Linked DNA regions of Homo sapiens: region 1 is linked to region 2. A link means that fine-mapping ties the variant in region 2 to the expression of a gene that starts in the linked region. Tissue or cell type: sun-exposed skin. Region 2 holds a variant in brackets; the other region holds the start of a gene. All regions are shown on one strand. Distances are between the middles of the regions. Region 1 holds the start of RPRD1B (regulation of nuclear pre-mRNA domain containing 1B). Region 2 overlaps RPRD1B (regulation of nuclear pre-mRNA domain containing 1B).

The links. PIP is the estimated chance that this variant, and not a neighbour inherited with it, causes the effect.
Region 1: it holds the start of RPRD1B, and the variant in region 2 is fine-mapped to the expression of RPRD1B in sun-exposed skin (GTEx, PIP 0.97).

Annotation. Positions count from the first base shown.
Region 1 is chr20:38,031,449-38,036,820 of GRCh38, reverse strand. RPRD1B (regulation of nuclear pre-mRNA domain containing 1B) reads right to left here and starts at 3,075. Exons shown (of 7, transcript NM_021215.4): 1 at 2,723-3,075. The coding sequence starts at 2,873. TTI1 (TELO2 interacting protein 1) reads left to right here and starts at 3,365. Exons shown (of 8, transcript NM_001303457.2): 1 at 3,365-3,417. It overlaps LOC124904898 (a long non-coding RNA gene), which reads right to left and starts at 2,715. Exons shown (of 2, transcript XR_007067579.1): 1 at 1,416-2,715. RefSeq lists enhancers at 2,443-3,038, 3,239-3,508, 3,039-3,634.
Region 2 is chr20:38,087,385-38,092,756 of GRCh38, reverse strand. It overlaps RPRD1B (regulation of nuclear pre-mRNA domain containing 1B), which reads right to left. Exons shown (of 7, transcript NM_021215.4): 7 at 393-3,031. The coding sequence ends at 2,882. It overlaps LOC124904897 (a long non-coding RNA gene), which reads right to left. Exons shown (of 4, transcript XR_007067578.1): 3 at 4,746-4,894; 4 at 4,337-4,648. Among named protein-coding and RNA genes, the nearest start is that of RPRD1B, 56 kb to the right of the region's middle. The variant C/T (reference allele first, on the strand shown) is at 3,100.

The DNA.
Region 1 (5,372 bases), 56 kb after region 2:
TTAGTTCCTTAGTCACACATTTTAAGTGCTCCATAGCCACATATACCAAGCGGCTACCTGTTGGATGGCACAGATAGAAAACATTGCTATTATCACAGAAAATTGTATTAGATAGCGCTGTTTATATCCTTTATGCTGCTATCATAGAAAGTTGTATTGGATAGCGCTGTTTAGATCCTTTACTCAACCACGAAAATTCTATCAGAGACCATGATTTAATTCCTATTTTTAAACTATATAACAGGCACCACGCGATATCCTGTGGTGTTGCAAATAAACAAGAAGGTCTAGTTCCTCTCTCAAAACATAATCTAATGACAAAGATGTAACCAGTTCAAATGAACAGCTAGTAGGAACAAATTAAATGCTAAACTGGTATGATGGGGTGGGAGGCACTCATTAATTCTAATAAATGAAAGCACCACAGTTTGATTGCAGTCAGGTGACCACCTTCACTTATTAAATGCATTGAGGCACTGAGTACATGAAAAAGAACACATTTTGGCATCAGGCAGCCCTGGGCTCATGTCCTAGCTGTATGTCTGTGGACAAGGCACTTAATCCCTCTATACCTTTATCATCTCATCTATAAAATGAGGATAATAATGCTAGCCTACTTGCAACATAAGGCTTTACCACGTAAGATTAGGGATAACGGAGCTTCATACACAAATGTACTCTCTAATTTGCTTTTTTTCAGTAACTCAACTAGGGTGAGGCAAGGAATCAAGAAAGTGTCACAAAAGAAGTGACACTTGGCCAGGCGTGGTGGCTCACACCTGTAATACCAGCACTTTGGGAGGCCGAGGCGGGGGCATCACAAGGTCAGGAGATCAAGACCATCCTGGCTAACACAGTGAAACCCCATCTCTACTAAAAATACAAAAAATTAGCTGGGTGTGGTGGCGGGCCCCTGTAGTTCCAGCTACTCGGGAGGCTGAGGCAGGAGAATGGCATGAACCCGGGAGGTGGAGCTTGCAGTGAGCTGAGATCGCACCACTGCACTTCAGCCTGGGTGACAGAGCGAGACCCCCATCTCAAAAAAAAAAAAACAAAAAAAATGACACCTGAGATGGACTTTAACTGCCTCTTGAGGTCCCACCCAATAGAATTCTGTACAGTGGCAATTCACATTTCAGCACACTCTTCAAATAATTTCTGAATGGCACAGTGGGGTACATGAAGAAGGCCCCATAAACTCCAGGCTCTACCTCTTCCCGGAACTGCCCGAAGGGCTGAGGGGATCCCTATCTCAGTACAGTACGCGATATTTGGGGGCAGTCCCTGCTAAAGGGCTAGAACTGGGTCTCCTGAAAAAAATCATGAAGATTTTGGTGTTTGCCAGCCTGTTGTAGTCTGAGCCTGTTCAGTTCGAAAGCCTTGAAAATACCACTTAGCCACTTCAGTTTCCTCACCTGTAGAGCAGGACATCTGTGGTGTCCCCAACTCACAGATAGTATAGAACACTTGTAAAGCCACTTCGCTATAAAGGCCTACCACATATAGGGTGTCTGGAGCAGCTCTGAGCTTCATTTCTTCAGTCTTCCATTATGAAACTCATCCGGGAGTGTAGGTGTCCATCTTTCCCCACCAGACTGTAAGCAACTTGAAGGTAAAGACCATGCCTCACAGTGAGTAATCAAAAGTCTCATCTCACCATAATCTGCTGAATGCCTACACTGTGCCTCACCCCATGCTAAATGTTCATTTGGATTATCCCGTTTACTCCTCACCACGAGATGAGTCTCAGTTTTTCCTCTTCTGCAAAGTTCCTACTTCATAGGGCTCCGAGAATTTTTTTTAATGGCAATGTATGTAAAGATATCAGTACTGCACTTCGCATGTAATAAAGACATAGTAAATTTCAGTTATCCATTCTGTAGATAAGAAAATTAAGGCACAGACAGGTTAAGTTGCTGGGGTCAGTAAGGCGGCAAAGTCAGGCTTAAATTCTAGGCAGTTGGCAGAGGCAACATGCTGCAAGTGTCCAAGCCAGTGCCTGGCACATAACAGAATGAGTTCAATGAATTGTCTGTCAGAACCTGAGCAGGGCCTGAAATCAATGACAACTGCATGAGAGAGGAGAGGAGAGGAGAGGTAAGGTCTGGGTGGCCCCTTAACCTAAGATGGGAGAGACTACCTACTTCACAGGGCTGTTCTAAGGACTGAGTGCGAGGATACACACAAAGGTCTTAGTATAGTGACTGGTATGAAGTAAAGGCTTTGTAAGGGGTAGCTATCCTTGCCTCCCTCTTACAGATGAGAAAACGGAGACACAGGGAGATGAAGAAACTCTCCCAGTATTATTCAGCTGGCAAATAGCTGAGCCAGGACTCGATCTGCAGAGTCTGACTCCGGAGCCCACTGGCTTTTACTCCAAATACCCAGCACTGGGCCCGACATGCTAGGGCCAGTACGGCAGTGAATGCAGCCGAGATAATAACAGCCACAAATGTCAGGGGGAAACTGAAGGGAAAATGGCTTGATGAACTAGAAGTCTGGACACCTGAGTCCCAGTCCGTGGACCCTCAGGCAAGTACCTTAAACCTTCCCGGGCCTCAGTTTCCTTCTTCGAGAAATGGGGCTAACTTTGTCTCCCATCTCAGAAGCTCGATCAGGCCTGGAAAGCAAGGCTCAATGAAGAGGCTTAGAGGGGCCTAGGTTGTATGTGGGCGAGAGGACAATCCGGGGACCGTCCAGGGGGTGGGGATTTGGTGTTTACCTTTGCGGAGCTCGCGGTGCCACACGGAGACGATGGGTCCCGCGTGCTTGCGGTGGTGGATGAGCCAAAGGGACAGGGTCTGCACGCTCTGCTGAGAGTTGCTCAGCTCCGAGAGCTTCTTCTCCAGCGCCGACTCAGAGAAGGAGGACATGGTGGCGGCAGTGAGGCCCGGCAGGGAGCGGCCTGGGCCGCCCAGTGCGGCGGGAAGAGCGACGGCACGAGGCCGGGGCCTCACCTGACAGGCTGCGGGACTTTTTACCGACTGACAGACTGCCAGGGGTGCGAGAAGGGGGAGGGGATGGGTCTCCGCAGTAACAGCCGCCCGCGCCGCCGCCACAAGATGGCCACCCGACCTCTCACCCTGCCGCGAGAGCGAGGTCAAAGGGCAAGGGCCGGAGCAGAGGGGCACCGAGAGGCGTCGGAGCTCTAGAAAACCGTCCCTTTGGAGGCGGCGGCCGCTCTGAACCTCGCGCAGAGCACTTCGAAGGAGACAGAGCGAGGCAAGGAGAGTAGTTCCCCGGGCCCCCGGAAAGAGCTTTGACCGCTCGAGCCTGCACACCGGCGCAGTGGATCTCGCCGGAACCCTTTTTCCCGCTCCCTCGGAACCTTTCTGGCGCGATACGGCGCGCTACTTAGCGCGTCACTTCCGGCGAGGCAGAGGAGGCGGGAGAGTGAGAGAAAGGCTGGAAGACGAGGTAAGGGAAGAGTGGCGGGAACCAGAGGGAGCCCAGCAGCTGGGACCCTGTAGAGGGGTATCCTGAGGGGACATTGAGTCTGAGAGATCATGATCTGGATATGGGAGGGGGATTTCCTTTCTAATCTGGCGGGCCCCAGGCCGCATCTTTCCTCCATATGTGTTCGGCTCTCTGGCTGTCCCCCAAAACACTTAGTTTTGGTTCTTCCAAGCCACCCACGTGCCCTTTTCACGCCTCCACGCCCTGGCGCTCGTTCTCTGTCCGAAAGTGACATCCCCTTTCTCACCTGGTGAGCTCCTACTCAGCCCCCCGGAGCACCCTTTAATGTCCTGTTTTGACCTTTTAGTCTGTAACAGCGCCGTCATGAAACACACATTTGGGCTCTCGGCTCTTAAGTGGGTTCTCACTCAGGGTATTATTACGTGCTGCTTTTGCCGTCTGCGGGTCCAGTTGACTTTTTCGAACTTAAGTGAGGTGTTAACTTTAGGGAAAAGGTGGAGGGAACTAACTTAGCCTTCCCAATGTGTCTGTTGACCTCATGTTGAGACACACTATTTGAGGCCTGGCGCAACGTCTCTTGCTTGTAATCCCAACCCTTTGGGAGGCCGAGGCGAGAGGATAGCTTGAGGACTGGAGTTCAAGACCAGCCTGGGTAACAGCGAAAATTAGCCAGGCATGGTGACGCTCACCTGCAGTTCCAGCTACGCGAGAGGATACCTTGAGCCCAGGAGTTAGAGGTTACAGTGAGCTATGATCGTGCCACTGCACTCCAGCCTGGGCGATGGAGCGAGACTCTTCTCTGAAACAAAACAAAACACTATCTGAGACTCTAAACCTTGACCCTATTTTTTTTTTAAGTTTTAAATCCCAGGTATCAAAGCAGCAGAGAAATTTTGTTTTTCTTACTGCCACGGGGGTGATGGTAGGGAGTTAAGTTATAGACATAAGAGGGTTTTAAAATTTCCTGATCGTGGTATAACTTCCTAGTTGTGGGCAGACTCTAGTTTAGGAGACGTTCTTCTAGTTGATGCCTGCTTTTGCTCTTATTGCACTGTATTGCAGTTCTTTGCTTACATGCTTTTACCCTTCCTCCAGACTGGAATCATAATCATAGCTAACGCAGTGAGAGGTTACTATGTGCTAGACACAATTCCCACACAGTAACTCATTTAATCCTCACAACAAAGCTGTGAGGTATTATATTATCCCCCTTTGGACAGCGTAGGAAACAGGCTCAGAGAGGTTAAGTGACCTACCCAAGATCACATTACTAAGACTTGAGGGAAGGGGCTGCAACTTAGCCATCTTTTTGGCCCCAGTTCCTGATTTATCAAGTGAGTTAGTGTAAAAGAGGTGAGTAACCTAAAATCATACAGTGAGTATCTAGTCATAACTGAGGGCTTTTGTGTCGAAATCTAGATCATCTTTCCATATTAATAACACTGTCATATACTGAGCACTTTTATACCAAGTCACTGTCTATTAAGCACATTACATACTTTTTAAATTTAATTCTTACATCAGTCTTAGGAGTTGAAATTATTACAATCACTATTTGATAGACGAGAAAATGTAAAGCATGGTTAAGTACCCTATGTACTTGGACATAGTTAGGAAATAGCAGAGCCAGGAGTCAAATTAGGGTTATCTTATGTCTGATCCCAAATTCTTGCCTCCTGAACCAATAGTTTATTCATTCATTCGGAAAATAATTTTTCAGCACCTATGTCCAAAGCACTCTTCTAAGCTAACAGACAAAATCCACGTTCTCAGGAACTTACTTTCTACTGAGAAAGATAGAAAAACAAACATGCAAGTTTAGAATAAGTCAGAAAGTGGTAAGTAACTTCAATAAAAATCAAGGAGATAAGGAGGATAAGGAATGTATATGTGTAGGTGGGTAGTCTTTTACTTATGCTTCTCAGAGAAGGCCTCATTGATAAGATGTCATTTGA
Region 2 (5,372 bases):
CAGGAGGCCTACTGGTGTGAACAAAGGCGCTAAAATCAAAGAACTTCCAAGTTTTAATCTGTCAGAGATTGGCTGTGAAGTATGGGGGAAGAGTCATTTAATCTCTCTCCATCAGTTCCCACTTCTGTACAATGAGGGTAAAACTATGGCGGCACCTCTCATGGGTACTGTGTGGACTGCCTAATTAAAGCTAATTAAGCCCCTGGAAAGAACCAGAAAATACTACGTAAATGCTGAGTATTTATGTGCCGCTAACAGACACAAAAACTCCCAAGGGACAAGATTCTGTGCCGACAGCACATTCTCTATTGGTGATTACTAATCACCCACTGCTTACAAAGAAAGGCACTGTTTTCAGTAACAGGGTAGTTTAAAAAAAAAATCACACAATGTTGTTCAACAACACCATCTTTATTCAAAAATATATATCTATGAGACATTTCAGAATATACTGCTGCCGCCAACGACAGCCTATACTTCTAAATAGTCCTAAATTAATATACAAATTTAAGCTTTGAAAATATTCTTTAAGAAAAACAAACAAACAAAAACAAGGGAAGATTGAAGACTTTCTGAGGAATATGACCTAAAGGAAAGGTCCTTTGAGGCCTACAGATGCCCTAAGAAAGAAAAAACACAAAAACAAAAACCACCCACCCCACCCACCAAGTCACCTCATACATACAAGGAGGAAAGTTCATTTAAATTAAACAAATGAAGTAAGCACACTTTGGGAGGATGTGGACAGCAGAATTAAGATTTAAAAAACGAAAGCATTTCATCAAAACAAAAAACTAACTTCCTCACAGGAAGTCCACTAGTAACAGGTATTAAGAGGCCAACACATTCATTTACATAATTGCTACAGTTTCATTTCTTAACTTTTGCTGTAATAATTATGCACCAATTGCTGGTCAGAGACTCAGTTGGATAAAACAGAGCAGTGGGCTAAATCCATTCTGCTATATTTTCATCTAGTTGATCAGAGCAAATATCTACGATCCTCTTTTGGCTGGATTGTGGCTGCTCAGATCGCACTTCCTTGGTGAAAGCATAGAGTGTCCCAGATGGGCCTGCTCCAAAACACGCTCATCTAGAAAGCAGCACACCACGGGGGGTGGGGGAGAGGTTGGGGAGTGCAGCAGCAGCAAAGATTACAATTTATCTTGCAATTTTAGTGATGTCACCTATGGCCTCTGGAAGAAAAACCTTATAGACTCATTAATTTAACAGTGACAGAACGACAGGCAGTGTCCATAAGCAAACAACACACAGTCTGAATTCAAATCTGAATAACAGCTCAAACACTACTAGGTTCTACACAGAGTTAAACTGAGTATCTGCTATGACTTTTCATTGTTCTCACTTCATGACAAGCAGGAGAGCTTCTGGAAGGGAAGCCCGTTATGCTTTATAAACATAGGTTATGTTTCAATGTGTTTAACATGTAAAATTACATGTAATTTTTGGTGATCCTGGAAGTAGCAACACAAATTAATGGAGATTACAAAGCCCCCTCCACTGAATTCCTTTTTATATAGTTTGGGTTTCAGCCTCTGGTCTATAACTCCTATTACACTACTGGGGCAAATCGCTTTCTGCCCTTTCCAATGTCAAAAATAAGCCTGCCAAATTAGAATGATTTACAATTGGCAGGCTGAACCTTTACTATAAGCAAGATAAAAATTGTCTCTAACTACATTATATAGTCATAATGTCAGCTGACATGATAATAGAATTAAAACCCCCAATTAATATCCCCAACTCCCCGCTTCCCCTGCCCGAGACGAGCTATTCAATAACATCTGACGCAAGTACTCCCCGTCGTGTGGGGACAAGGACCTGTGCAGTGGCGTGACATGACAGACGGACCTGCTCAGCGTCCTATTTGCAGTGATGTTCGAGTTTAGCCACCGTACTGTGGACATGCACCCAGACAGCGGATTAAACGTTAGTGTGTACCCTACTCCCAGAAGAAAGGGTCCAAGAAACACCCACACAGATCCCAAATGCAGCACACCTGTGTGTGGGGCCTTCATCTTTTGGAGCCCACCAATGCCTGCCATCCCTAACAACTGCCTTCGCACCCACCAGGGATCAAGGCATTCTGTTTTTCGGAACGTGCTCCGACAGTGGAGAAGTGCAGCATGGGAAGGTTGTATCTAGGAACTTGAAGCAAATAAATTCCTTTTAATTCATGCTTGTGATCCCTGTTATTCTGTCTCTGAACTGTGCCTTTATGCTCCAGATTAGCTTTGAATCTTATTGCTAGATTCTCCAATCTGTTTACAAAATAAATGCACCTAATCTTCGTGCATCACTAGGAGAAGCAATGGAAAGGGAGGATCAGAGATTTGGCAAACTCTTTATGGCAACGCTACGACAGCTGTGCCTACAACCTTTTGGGGCAGATGCAGCTGGGAAAGCCAACGTCTCCAGGACAAGTGCCTTAGTGGAAGCCCACACCGAACTTGAACAAGCCCAGCCCAGAAAGGAGAAGCTGCTTTCATGATAAAATGCTGTCATGAGGGACAAGATTCTTTCGAAAGCTTCCAGAAGTACACATGATTTTCATAACTTCTTAGGTATAAGGAGACAGTTAAGAATGGAAAACCAACAGGGGGGCATGAAAATATGAAGTGGGAGAAAAAGTCTGTAGTCTTTGCAAATATGAATATAAACCAGATTCCAGTCGCCACTGTTCTGAACTGTGCTCAAGATGAGAGGCTGAAGAGGAGAATCAGAGTCTGAGGTTCTTTCTTGAGGCTGGGGGGCTGGGCGGAAGAAGGGATAGAACCAGGGGCTAGAAGGTTATTTCCAACCATGACTTGCCCTCTTCTTTCTGCTGGTACAAACAGAAATCTGGGACATGACACCCATCCTAGTCAGTTGAAAACAGGTCCCCAGCAGAGGGCAGGGGGGCTAAGCCCCCTGTGACGTTGGGCAGCAGTGAGAGGTCTGGCAAGCTCTGAATATGGGATTTCAGTTCCTTGCGGACCTGGGTTACTCGTGCAAGCTTCTGTTTGTATTCCTAAGGAGATAAAGAGAAGACAATACCGTTAAGTCTGTGCGTGCCGAGGGCATGGGTGCTGCTGGAGC[C/T]GGGCAGCTACTCTCGTCCTCGTGTTCTTCCTTGTCCCCACCAGCCTGCCCACCCTGTTCAGCTATATCACAAAGCTAGGGCTTCAAATGCTCAAAAGGCAAAACTTTCTATCAAAAAAGGAACGCAGAGTGCCATATTGGCAACAGTGAATTAAATGGTATTCAATTTAGGGCTTGAGATTTGGAAGTAGAAAGAAATAACACTTGGTATTTGCATTCTCTTTTTGTTGGTTCTCAAAAGTTTCAAAATGCTTTATAAAATAAAACAGACACCTGAGCCTCACAATTTCTTTGCGGACTCCACCTAGATATGGCAAGAAAAAAAACACTGAAGTTATACTTCCTATGTTAAAGCTTGGAGATTAACCTAAATTTATCATGTTTTGCAAACAAGCACTATAGAAGCTCAAAATACCCCACTGCTACTCCCTGTGACCAGGGCCTCCTCATTCCATAACTGAGTCACTGCAGTAAGTCCCTGGTTAGGCCTCCTGACCCCTAGGGCTCCTAAAATGCCACCAGACTTCTCTCCCAAAAGCCCAGCTTTCATGAAACCACTCCCTTGAGAAAGTGAGGCACGGCACCCCACTAGCTCCATGATCTGGTCCTTCAGAGCAGAGTTCAAGGTCTTACAAAATCAGCCCCTGCCTCACAACCTCCTAACCCTCTTTGTCTGTGTGGACCATTTTTTCAGGATTCCCCGCAAGCCTGGAGGGGGTCTCTCTCTTCTCCTAGCCCTAGCAAAGCCTGGCCTCCACTCCTCTGCTCCTTGGACTATCTGGACTCCACCTCTCTAGGAAAATCCTTGCTCTGCATCCAGGAGACGACTCCGCATCTCCTCCTGCTCCAGAGCTCTCCCTCACACAGGGTGTGTACCTGAGCCCCTAGCAAGCTGCTCTATGCTCTCTCCATACATGTGAGACTTCTATGTTCCTCTAGAATATGAATCCCCTAATGATAGGAATGGGGCATATTTTTTTTCTTTCCTCAGCTCCCGGAAAAAGGTACTCTTGATAAATCTGCCAAGATATATAGAAAACAACCCTAGGCCATGTGAAGTCTGGGGCTGTTGGCCCCCTTGGGGCTTAGTTTTTGTCCTCTCAGTGTCTCTGCAAGGGTAAGTAGGTCCCTGACGCTGGGCCCCTGCTGACTTAGAAAGCCCTTCCTGCAGGAATGTAACAAGAAGCCCTGGGCTGAGATGCAGAGACCTAGGCTTGGTCCTGGTTCTGCCTCTAACCTGCTGTGTGACCGTGGATGTGTTCCCTTCTTCCATATCTGAAAGTGAGGGAACTGGACCATAACACTTCTTTTCAAGTTCTAAATTCCTTGATACCAGATCCCTGATGCACACCTGAAGAGGCAGAAAGTAGAAGCTAGAGAATGTCTGGGAAGAATAATGAGGCAGGAAAAAGGTCAAATGGAGAATACTTAGTTCAAGTTGTAAAGACAAAAGTCCAAGCAAGGAGTGAGAGGAGGGAACCAGGCATATCCTCTCCCCATTACTGCAGGCAATCAGTCTCCCACCCGCAATGAGAGCTCCTCACACAGTCTACAAAGGAAGAGAAAAGGGTAGAGAGTGAGCTCTCCTAGCAGCCCATTTCTTTTCTTTGTAAACTTACCACAACTAAAATTAAACAATGACTTACGTAAATGATTAGCAATGACTCCCACATTTAACTAGTAAGCTCCTGGAGGCCAGGACCAGACCCATCTGCTTCCCCCAGCATCCACCAGGCTCCGCAGTGTCCAGCAAACAGTAGGCACCCAGCACATGTGCCGAATGAATGAGCCATATCTAAAACATAACATCAGGTAAAAGCATACCACATGAAGTAGCTCCTGAGACTCAGACTTTGGTTAACAGTCACCTTTCACGTTCCTGAAGTTGAAAACTATTTTCAAATTTGAGGATCTGAACCCCCTTTCTCCCACAAGTACTTTTCTTCTTTGGCTGTTTATACTTCAAGGGAAATTAATATAAAGGATGAAGGCAACTAATTCTCTATTTCTGGACACGGATTCATCTAATAAACTTCTCCTGAATGGAAGGTATAAAAAGGGTAAAATAACAAAACAACTACAGAACACGGACTTCCTGCCCCCTGCCTGAATTCTCTGACCAAAGCTGACAAATCAAAGCCACCTCGACTCAGAACCAACCACTCTTGGCAACTAGGGAGCCCTTCAGTTGAAGGAGTCCCTCAAGAACAATTTGAAAACCACCAAGTCTCTAGAAGCTGAGCTGGGATCAGAATCCAAGACTCCTTACTCTT